3 linked regions of the Homo sapiens genome follow. The protein of the gene in region 1 purifies or fractionates together with the protein of each later gene. This does not show direct contact. Each region holds a gene or a part of one and is shown in the gene's direction. Other genes may lie near its edges.

Region 1 (3,648 bases):
AAGCCCAGATCTCTGGCACACTTTCTGCCCTGAAAGGTGTCCTGTGTGTTACAAGTCAATTACTTTTTTTTTTTTTTCCCAAACACAATCAAACCTTGAATGGGTTGATTTACTGGGAAGCTGGTCCAGGGCTCATGAGTAATGAATGGCTTTGGCCAATCTGCATGGAGTCCTGGCAATTTGTCATTCTTCCTCCAGCTTCTGTTACCCTGGCGCTCCTTTAGAATGATTCTTGGTTTTCATGGCCAACAGAATAGCAGGAGGTGGTGTCTGGGGTCCGAGCCCAAATCTAATTCTCTTCTGCCACTTCCTGTCTGTGAGACCCCAAGCTAGTGGTATAACCTCTCTGGGCATCCTGTTTCTGCATCTGTAAAAAGGGTGACAATCGTCCCCCTCTTGTAGCCTGTTGGGAATCCCAGGGAGAGAGGGTGTGTAAGTAGAGTGCTTGGCGTGGAGCCTGGCATGTAATAGCCTGGGCACACAGTGGCTATTGTGATGGTTGCTCTAACAACTGAGGTTCTTCCCAGGAGCACTCGGTCTCTTCTGGACACCTTCTGATTGCTCAGAATTGAGGAGGGGAAAGGTGGGCATTGTGGTTTGTCTGCTCTGCCCACAGGAGGCAGGAGACGGGCCAGTGGACTTAGACACTCGTCTTTCCTGCATCGTTTCTGGGTGAAAAGGTGCAAGGAGGAGGGAGCAGAGAGGCTGGTCTCAACAGCTGTGCTGGGTGAAGGGTTCGAGTGCTGGCTCTGGGAGAATGAGTTCACCTTCACCGCCCTGTGCCTCGGTTTCTTTATCTGTCAAATGGGGAAGTTGCCATTTCCTGCCGGATGAGCCGGCACAGTCCTTGGTACATAGAAGGCGCTAGGAATGGCCACTGGTATAATAAGAAAAGCCGGGCCGTAGCGTCCTCTGATGGAACACGTGGGACCCGAGCGGGCAGGGTTTTTGGGGGTGAGGTGTCTGTGGTTTCGGCTGGCTGGGTTTGAGTATGCTCCGTCATCCCGCAACCCCCGTGGTGACAGGGTGGGAGTCCTGTAACCTGTCACACCAGCATGTGAGGGCCACATGCCCCACGAGGGGGTGATCTAAGGCTGAGTTTGGGCAGAGAGGCCAAAAAAAGGTGCCAGGCAGCTCACGGACAGAGGTGCTCGTGCCACACAGAATTCTCAGTTCTGGGAATTTTTGTCACCAAAATTGCTGAGGACTCGGGCAGCTACGTCGCCTGTACCAGGGGTGCGCCTGCCCCAACAGTGCCTGCTGGGCCCCTTAAATCCGCCAGCCTCCTAGCTGAGCCATCAGTGGCTCCTTGGTGGCCTCGCAGGTCTCCTGATCTGGCAGAGTCTTGATTTAGGAGCCTCGGTTCCAACCCCAGCCCTGCTTCTGGGAGGCTCTCCTGAGCCTCAGTCCCCTCAGGGGTGTGGCTGCTGGGTCTTCGTGGCGGTAAGGGACAAGTCGGAGTGCAGGGGGTCAAGGACAGGAGGTGGCTGGCTGTAGCAATAATCGGAAAAATGACAGTGGCTCGGAGCAGAGTGGTGGTGGTGGAGGAGAGGGTGGGCATTGTTATCTCGAATGAAAACCAGTCCTGTTTGCTTCTGTGGCTTGTAAGTTTCTCCTCATCCATAAACCTGCCTCTCACAGTGGGGGGTCTGGACTCCGTCCTTCAGGCGTTTGTAATGCAGCTGGGGTGACCTTGCAGACAGGGTCACTAGGAGCCCTGAATCAGGGGTGCAGTTCCCCTCCCACCTGGCTGCACCCACACATTCAGGCTGTGTAACCTCCTTTCGGGCCGAGGTCACCACTCCCTGGCTCTCCTTGGCCGCCACGAAGGGCATTCTTCCGGCAGAGTGTGGGCGGCTCCCCGGCTTGCCTGCTCATGCCTCCCCTGACCTCAGACGCATCGCCCAGAGGGCAGGAGGAGCCCCGGGGTGTCCTTGGTGACGACTCCACCCCCCATGAGAGGAATCGGCCTGCTGGCCTGAAGCCCTCTCTGCTGCCCAGACAGGCGCGGGTGGCCCAGTCCACTGGCTGCGTGGCATTGGCAGTGACACAGGAGGAACCTGGGCCCGACTCGTGCCACCCATAGGAGTCCTTGTAATGGCAGCCCCACCCTCAGCCTTTTTGGCGACAGCCTGGAGAGGGCAACCACCCTATGTGGTGTAACGGGTGGAGAAACCAGGCTTAGATGGGTGATGTGGCCTGCCCAGGGCCTCCCGCTAGTGAGGGTGGAGCTGGGATTCCAACCCTCATCTGTGTGATCTGGAGCTTGCTCTCAGCCCCAAGGGAGTGTGGCCTGTGTCCCCCAGGGATGAAGAGTCCCCGGTAACAGGCTCTTCCTCATCCTCCTCAGGGAGAAGAAATGGGTGACCGTTGGTGACACATCCCTACGAATCTACAAATGGGTCCCTGTGACGGAGCCCAAGGTTGATGACGTGAGTATGGAGGGCTGGTCCCCTGGGGTGGGCCACCCATTCGTGCTCCTCCCACCATGGGGAGGGAGATTGTCCACTGCTACCCACCGTGCTGGGGCTCTGGGACCAAGAGCCCCTGGGAGTAGAAGGACCCAGATTAGACCTGGGGAGGCTGCTGTACCAGTCCCCACCCCTCCCACTCCAGCCCCAGAGTCTGGCCCTCAGAGCGGTGGACGGGGGGATCCCGCAAGCTGTGTCTTCTTCTTCTTCTTCTTCTTCTTTTTGATACAGAGTCTCACTCTGCCGCCCAGGCTGGAGTGCAGTGGTGTGATCTTGGCTCACTGCATCCTCTGCCTCGTGAGTTCAAGCGATTCTCCAGCCTCAGCCTCCCGAGTAGCTGGGATTACAGGTGCACACCACCACACCCAGCCAATTTTTTCGTATTTTTAGTAGAGACGCAGTTTCACCGTGTTGGCCAGGCTCGTCTTGAACTCCTGACCTCGGGTGATCCACCTGCCTGGGCCTCCCAAAGTGCTGGAGTTAAGGCGTGAACCAGTGCGCCCGGCCTGCAAGTTGTGTCTTCTGGGCCGAGCGCCCCCCCCAGGGCTTGGCACTGTGTTTTGGGGCAGGTGTGGTGGTGCCCACAGTTAGGCACGTTCTCCCCACCTTTGTGGTTCTGTTCCTGAGCCTCTGACCATCTGCCAGGCCCTGGGCTGATGCCTCACATGTGGCATCTCCGTTATTTTTCCTACTCAGCCTGTGGAGTTGATCTTTTTAACCTCTCCTCTGTACAAGTGAGGGCACAGGCTCAGAGAGGTGAAGCCACTTCACATGGCTCACCTCAGAGCTGTGAATGGAGCTCAGGTCTGTCTGACTCCAAAGCGCAGGTTCTCTCTGCGCTTGGAGAGGCTTCTGGTGAGTGGAGCTGCTGGTGACAGGGGTCCCCGGTGCTAGGAAAGCCTGGTGTAGGGATGCGGGGCTCCAGGAGGGCTCCAGGAGGGGTGGCGCCATCCCGACTTCCACCACTAGAGGGAATGCGAGGCGCTGTCCTGTGATGGCTGGCAACTGCCCCGAGCAGACAGTGCTCTCCCAACTTCGTGGTTCCCAGGCCAGTTACCTCCAGAGACCCCTCTCATTTCCATCCCAAATCAAGAACAGTCTGCCCCATAGGCCTTTGCCTGGGCCATTCCCCCCTGCCTGGACTGCCTTCCGTATTTACTCAAACTCAGTCCTTCTA
Region 2 (3,748 bases), on another chromosome or scaffold:
CAGTGTGGGAGGCCTTGCCTGTGAACTGTTCTAGAAGGCAAGCTGCAGGGCTGCATAACACTCCATTTTCCACTGTGAGTGCTGGGGGGACAGTGGTTAGCAGATGACATAGGCCCAGTCTTCAGGGTGAGCGCAGGAAGATGAATGAGAAAACCCTTCAATTCTGTGTAGCTGGGCTCTCTGGGGATGAGAAACTCAGGGGTTGGGGGGCACAGAGGAGGCCTCAATGCAGGCTAGTGAGGGTGGGGAGCAAGACAGTAAATGGAGCTGAAGCTGGGGCCAGATGCCAGGTAGGCCACACATTTCATCATCACATCTCTCAGCAACCCCAGCCCAAAAAGCTGGCCTCCTTTCCAATCTTCCCAGCCAAAGTCCCTGGACAAGCTGATTGGACCAACCAGAGTCAGATGCTCATCCCTGACTCATCACAGTGGCCTGGAAGATGCCACATGTTGACTAGTTGGTAGCAGCAGGCAGGTACTGGTACCAGTAAGGCAAGGCTGCTGGATATAGACACAGAAGGTCATTAGGACATGGGAAGTTCCTCACCAGGCTCTGGCCCTCTTTCAACCTCTGGGCCTTTGCACATGCAGTGCCCTCTTCTCAGAAAACCTTTCTGGCTGGGACTAGTAAGTGGCTCACGCCTGTAATTCCAACGCTTTGGGAGTCCGAGGCGGGCAGATCACCTGAGGTCGGGAGTTCGAGATCAGACTGACCAACATAGAGAAACCCCGTCTCTACTAAAAATACAAAATTAGCCAGGCATGGTGGTGCATGCCTGTAATCCTAACCACTCGGGAGGCTGAGGCAGGAGTGAACCCGGGAGGCGGAGGTTGCAGTGAGCCGAGATCGCGCCAGTGCACTTCAGCCTGGGCAACAAGAGGGAAACTCCATCTCAAAAAAAAAAAAAAAGAAAAAGAAAAAGAAAGAAAACTTTTCCCTCCACTCTGCTGGGCTGTTTCATTCTCCCCTCTAGGTTTCCAATCTTCGCCTTCTCCTGGCAGCCCCTCACATTGTCTCGGCGGGCTCTCACCACCATACACTCCATCTAGTGGGTGAAGGCGGGCCTAGGCCCGTGAGGGCAAAGCCTAGCGGCCATGATCACCCCGAGGTGCCCAGGACCCCACGGGAGGCGCTCAAGAAACGGCCCCTGGGGAAGAGCTGGCGCGCCCACCCACAAGCAGACCCCTTCCTGGGTGCAAACCCGTGTACGCTGGGACCCACTCCTATTCGGAGACCCACCTGGCTTGGGGCGCACAGATCGGGCGCGCGCGCACGATCCGCCCCACCCACAGACCACCGTGATCAGGGCGCACAGACACACACGCGCGTCCTCCCACGCACGCTCGGTCACACGCAGGCCCCCCTCTCCTGCCACAGAGGAACGCGCTGGCGTGCGCACGGCGGATCAATCATCATCCTTAGACCCACCCGGACCGAGGCGCAGGCTGCGCGCACGCGCGGCCCCGAGTCCCCGCCTCCCTGCCGCGCCTGTCGGGGGCGGGGCGCCGCTGGGGGCGGGTCCTGCGGCACCGCCCGGGAAGCTGCGCGAGGGTCGACAGCCTCCGCCACATCCTCCACCTCTCTTGGTCCAGCGAGCGTTGCCGGGCCAGGGTCAAGCGGAGGGCTCCGACGGCGCGGACGGAGCGAAGCGCCGAGCCATGGCGCACCAAACGGGCATCCACGGTGAGGGCGGATGGCGGGCGGGCAGGGGGCCTCGGTCTGGGCTCTCGGAAGCGCCCCCCCCCGGCTCTCGGCCCCTCCCTCCACCCCACACCAGCCGGGAGAAAGCTTCCTGTTCTCTTTTGCAGCCGCGGGTCGCCTGGGGTGGGCACATCTGGGGGAGTACGGACGTGGTGTGCATAGCTGGGAGTGGGTGTATGTGTACGTACACAACTGGGGTGGAAGTATCTGTGTGCCTACCTGGAGATGAATGTGGCTGTGTGTGCCCATCTGTATATTTTTGTTCCTTTCCGGGAGTGGGTGTACACGCATGTGCACACGTCTTCCGTGTACAGTCCTGCCTGTGCACCTCTGGATGTGACTCGCTTGTGTACATCTAGGGTCATTCATGCACTGGCACTAGTGACTGTTTGAATGGACACTGTAGGTCGCATAGGACCCTCTTTAGACATCAGTGTTTCATGGCAGTGTGCACATGTATGTGGGTGTCTGTGTGTGTGCACAGTTGGAGCGCGTCTCAGTGTGCATTTTTGCCAAGGATGCATATACCGCATGTGTCTGACTTGAATGGGCTTGTTTATGTGTGTTAGGAGAAGGCCCTGACCTTTGCTCCTCCCAGGACACTCACTCTCCCCAGGCTAGGGAAAACCCGGAACAGAGACTTCTACGTGGGATGGAGAAAGCTGCCTATCTGACCTTGACCTCTGACCTCCCTCCCATTTTCCACTGTGACTTTCTGAGTCTGCCTCAGTCTGGTTGGAAGATCCCAGCTCCAGGCTGCAGACAGAGAAGAGGTCCAGATATGGGGTTTTGTGGGGAGAGTCCTGGCCCTAAAGAATCCAGGCCAGCTCCCACCCCCAGCCCCCAGCCCTAGGAAGCTTCACCATTCCCGCATCACACCCTCCCCTCCCCTAGGGGTCCCAGTTTCCTTCTTGGACAGGCTGTGAGAGAAGCAATGGCTGGGAGCCAGGTGCCCTGACTCTACCTGGGGCTCAGTGTCCTCCTCTGTCACTGGCCTGAGAGAGCTGCCTGGCCTGTGGGGAAGGCCCGGGCTGTTTGCCCAGACAGCCTGGCGGGTTTGGCCATCAGCCACCCCTCCCACCACACTAGGATCCCCTGCCTGGGGCTGCCACCATCGACCTGCCTGACCACCTGAATCCTGGTGCGGTTGTGGCCACTTGGTGGCTGGGCTGCCCTGAGAAGGTTTCCCTGGCCCCGCGAAGGCAGGGGCCTGGGTCAGGGCCAGGGCTCCCAGATGGGCCAGCCTTTCTCCAGGAGGAGCTGGCGGGCAGGCTTCATGACTCAGCCCCACAGGAGGGAACTGCCTCCTGGCCAGCTTCTTCCTTCCCCTTTGTCTGGTCATAGCTGCTGCCTCCCAGCCTCCAGCCCTGGTGGAGGAGATCCCAGGAAGTTAGCCACCCCATACCCCTTCCCTGCTGCCTCACTCCCTCCTTTCCCATAGTGAGACAGGCCCACCGAGGGGGTCACTGGGGACTGGGCTGCCCCTAGCCCTCCTTCCACCTGTGAGCAGCCCACTTCTTCCCATTTCTGGCCTGGGAAGTTGGCAGCAGAGATCACCCTGGAGGACCAGGTGCCAGCCCTGTCCTGACCATAGGTGTGGATCTGCTGACCGCAGAGTAGGCAGGAAAGGGACCTGTAATGTGAGGCTCACTTGAGTCGGAGGGAGGGTGTTCATGAATCATTGATAATAGAGGCTCAGGTGTCCCAGGCCTGGCCTCTGGATTATTGATGGTGGCTGGGCAGGCATTGGGGCTGGGGTGGGCAGGGATGTGCCTTTCCCTGTGGGGGTGTCAGTTTGCCCTGGTAACACTAGAAGGGGCCCGTCGGCCTGTCCCTTAGGGGAGCTTCTTGGCCTTCCTTCTGGGAAGGTCTGGGCAGGTAGAAGGGGCAGCTCAGCACAGTCAGCTTGCTGTTATTATCATAATAAAAGATTAATTGTTATTAATAGAGGCCACCATCGCCAAGCCCTTTCTCCCATTTACCCCTCACCACAGCCCTGCCAAGTTTGGGGCTATTATTTCCATTTTATACACTGAAGTTCAGA
Region 3 (3,648 bases), on another chromosome or scaffold:
ATAATCCCATATAATCTTATGGGACCACTGTTGATTTTGTGGTCCATCCATTGACCAAAATGTCATTATGTAATGCATGACTGTAGTTTCATAATTTTAAATTAATGCAGCTACAGCATTCACCATGAAATTATTTCTTGATGTACTATATGTTAACCTGATAAAAACAAAGTTCTAAAAATATGCCTCAGCTACAGTGCTGCTTTGTTTGCCTTGTATTACCAGACCTTTTGTGCCAAACTTTTCCATTTGGCTGGAAAATAGTTGAAATGTTTAATGGAAGGAGCAGACTTGCTTTGTTTTGTTTTGTTTTTTCCTCCAGAGGGCATTGAAATTCCTATACTTTAGTTAATTATAGACTTACAGTCTTTCCATATTCCTACTTGTAGATGAATCATGGCTAAGGACAAACGTCATCCTTGAATCCATCTTTATATATTAGAGTGGGAAATGCTGTTTTATTAAAGCAACTATTCAGGCTGAAATCAGCCAATGCAGTTTTCCCTTACACGCTATAAAACATGTAGAAGTAGAAAGGGACTGCCGAGTGCTCTGTGCAATTAGTCTTCATAATATTCTTTGAACGTAGGAGAGAAGAGAACCCATGACCACACAAAGTTACCTGTTTGCTCCAGACATTGAAACAGCTAGTTCCCAAGTCTAATTTCACTTTATACACTAACTTTACTCACTCCTGGAGTTTCAGGTAGAGGACATGTGTAAGGAGGGAACAGGAGACAGGTGTTGATGTTGGGTTGGATTCCTTCCCTCCGTAGAAGATAGGCCTTTCTTTTAAAATCTAAACCTCGGGTGGCAGTGACTCAGGCACTAAATGTCATTGGTTTAATCAGTGAAACCAAATGCTTAGAGAAGAACAGTGGCTCCTGATTTGGGTTAGATTTAGATGGCATCTTTTTTTTTTTTTTGAGATGGTGTCTTGCTCTGTCTTGGCTCACCGTAACCTCCGCCTCCCGGGTTCAAGCAGTTCTCCTGCCTCAGCCTCCTGAGTAGCTGGGATTACAGGCATGAGCCATTGCACCCACCCACCATCACGCCTGGCTAATTTTTTTATTTTTGTATTTTTAGTAGAGACGGGGTTTTGCCATGTTGGCCAGGCTGGTCTCGAACTCCTGACCTCAGGTGATCTGCCCTTCTCAGCCTCCCAAAGCGCTGGGATTACAGGCATGAGCCATTGCACCTGGCCTTACAGGCATGAGCCATTGCACCTGGCCTAAATGGCATCTTTACTGGGGCAAAGTGGTGCCTGTTATTTGGTTTCTGTGTTAAACAAGCCAACTTGTATCTTCTGGTAGCATGTGTAGGTTTTACTTTGTGACATGTTAAAACCTCGTGATAAGAATTCATTAGAAGTAGAACTAACTACTACATAGTTTAGTGGTAATTTAGAAGGGATAGTCAAGTAGAGATTTTTATTATTATTATAAAATATTATATGTTAAAAGAAAGTTTGGAAAACAGGTAGAAATTGTCAAAAACCCATCACCCAAATGTGACAAATATTGTAAATTTTGCGTTCAAGTTTTTTTCCACACTTCATTTAGCTATTCCCCTATAATTAGAAGTCCAAGATAGATATAGATAGATCAATAGATCTAACATTGCAGCAAACATCTCCATGCTTATCACTTTTCTCACATTATGATTTACTTTCTTAGGATAAAACCTCAGGAACAGGATTACAAAATTAAGAGAAGCATTTTGAAGCAAATCAATTGGGCTACCATAGTAGACAGGCTGATTTGTATGGGTGCTTTATTTTCAATTTTACCTAAGGATGATGACTTAGAAAAACAACTGTGGGACAAAGTAGAAAACATTTCAAGCATAGCAACTTCCTACTCAAGTAGAAATTCATGCTACTGTCTTAATTGCCTGGTGGGATGCAACAAGAACTGCACGCATAACCTGGTTCCATTTACTTCTGAATGACTTCCTTGAATAGGCAGAAGGAATTGGGTTAAGTTGTTAGAAGTATAAGAGTGTGAAGCAGCTTTGGCAGGAATCACTAGCCATTTCTAATTTTTTTTTTTTTTTTTTTTTTTTTTGAGACAGAGTGTCTCTCTGTCGCCCAGGCTGGAGTGCAGTGGCGCGATCTCGGCTCACTGCAAACCTCCGCCTCCTGGATTCAAGAGATTCTTGTGCCTCAGTTCTGGCAGAAGGTGGTGTTTTTACAAGATGATTTCTAGGATTACAGGCATGCACCACCATGCCTGGTTAATTTTTGTATTTTTAGTAGAGACGAGGTTTCGCCATTTTAGCCAGGCTGGTCTCGAACTCTTGACCTCAGGTTATCTACCCGCCTCAGCCTCCCTAAGTGCTGAGATTACAGGCCTGAGCCACTGCGCCAGGCCTGGTTTTTTGGTTTCAAACCACAATAGACATTGCTGGAGAATCAAGCTCATAGTTTCTTTTTACTCTGCATGATATCCCTCCAAAAGCTTGTCTGTTCTCATGACTTCATGACAGTTCTTTGCCAATGATTTGCAAACATTATCTCCAGTCTTGATTCTTTCCTAGGCTTTATTTCTAAATACTCACTAGTCATTTCCACTTAGAAGCTTTGTCTTCTTTTCAAACTCAGCATATCCAAAACTGACCTCATCTTGTTGCCCTAACTAGAACATGCCACAACCCATTTCTGCCTATAATGTCATTATTCTCTTAAGGCCCCCATATTTGCAAATCAGGAGTCATCTTTGCCTCCCTTCTCTGAATGCTGCTGTGCTCACAGTCAGTACCATACAGTTAGTACTTGTTCTCAGTTTAATGCACACTTGTTTCATATGACCTCCTAGGGCAGAACCAAGATTCGTGGGTGGAAGTTGCAGGGAGGCAGATTTGCCTCCATATAAGGAAGAACTTTTTAATACTTTGAGCTGTCTGAATGGAATGGACTGCCTCCAGAAGTCTCGGGTTCTCCATCACTGAAGGTGTTTGAGCAGAGGCTGCCTGACTAATTGCTAATTGAAAGGACTGTTCTGGCATAAGATGGTGTTTTTACAAGATGATTTCTAGAATCCCTCTAATCCTGAGAGCCAGTGAGTCGATAGAAGGTAGCTTTGTCTCTCCTGCTAGACTCCCTTAGGACAGGGAGACTATTTTACCTTTCTTTTATATTCTGTACAGCACTTAATTCAGGTGCTGGTCTCTTAATTGCCTAAAGATGATTATTTACAGGTTAATTGATTCTTTTCATTTTGTTCCAATATTTGGTTAAACACCAAATATTGTGGATTTTTTTCCTTTGAAATATCTTGGGGAGACCAAGGCAGGTGGATCACCTGAGATCAGGAGTTCGAGACCAGCCAGGCCAACATGGCGAAACCTTGTCTCTACTAAAAATACAAAAATTCGCCGGGCGTGGTGGTGCATGCCTGTAGTTCCAGCTACTCGGGAGGCTGAGGCAGGAGAATCGCTTGAACCTGGAAGGTGGAGGTTGCAGTGAGCTGAGATCATGCCATCACACTCCAGCCTGGGCAACAGAGTGAGACTCCATCTCAAAAAATTACAGTAATAATAAATAAATACAAATATCTTTTGTAGTAGCATTATTTTAGATGAATAACAGCTTTTAACCTAACTTTCTAGACCCTAATATCATCACTTGTCTCCACATCCCATTCTGTT

What was found.
Region 2: the proteins of BCL7A (region 1) and TWF2 purify together in Homo sapiens (co-immunoprecipitation; 3 studies listed by BioGRID and IntAct, with this or other methods). This does not show direct contact.
Region 3: the proteins of BCL7A (region 1) and CAP1 purify together in Homo sapiens (co-immunoprecipitation; 3 studies listed by BioGRID and IntAct, with this or other methods). This does not show direct contact.

The regions. Positions count from the first base shown.
Region 1 is NC_000012.12:122,028,350-122,031,997, forward strand, and holds part of BCL7A (B-cell CLL/lymphoma 7 protein family member A), read left to right. Parts: intron 1-2,350; coding exon 2,351-2,432; intron 2,433-3,648.
Region 2 is NC_000003.12:52,236,930-52,240,677, reverse strand, and holds the start of TWF2 (twinfilin-2), read left to right. Parts: upstream 1-1,519; 5' UTR 1,520-1,661; coding exon 1,662-1,686; intron 1,687-3,748. UniProt on the Homo sapiens protein: Actin-binding protein involved in motile and morphological processes. Inhibits actin polymerization, likely by sequestering G-actin. By capping the barbed ends of filaments, it also regulates motility.
Region 3 is NC_000001.11:40,047,139-40,050,786, forward strand, and holds part of CAP1 (adenylyl cyclase-associated protein 1), read left to right. Parts: intron 1-3,648. UniProt on the Homo sapiens protein: Directly regulates filament dynamics and has been implicated in a number of complex developmental and morphological processes, including mRNA localization and the establishment of cell polarity.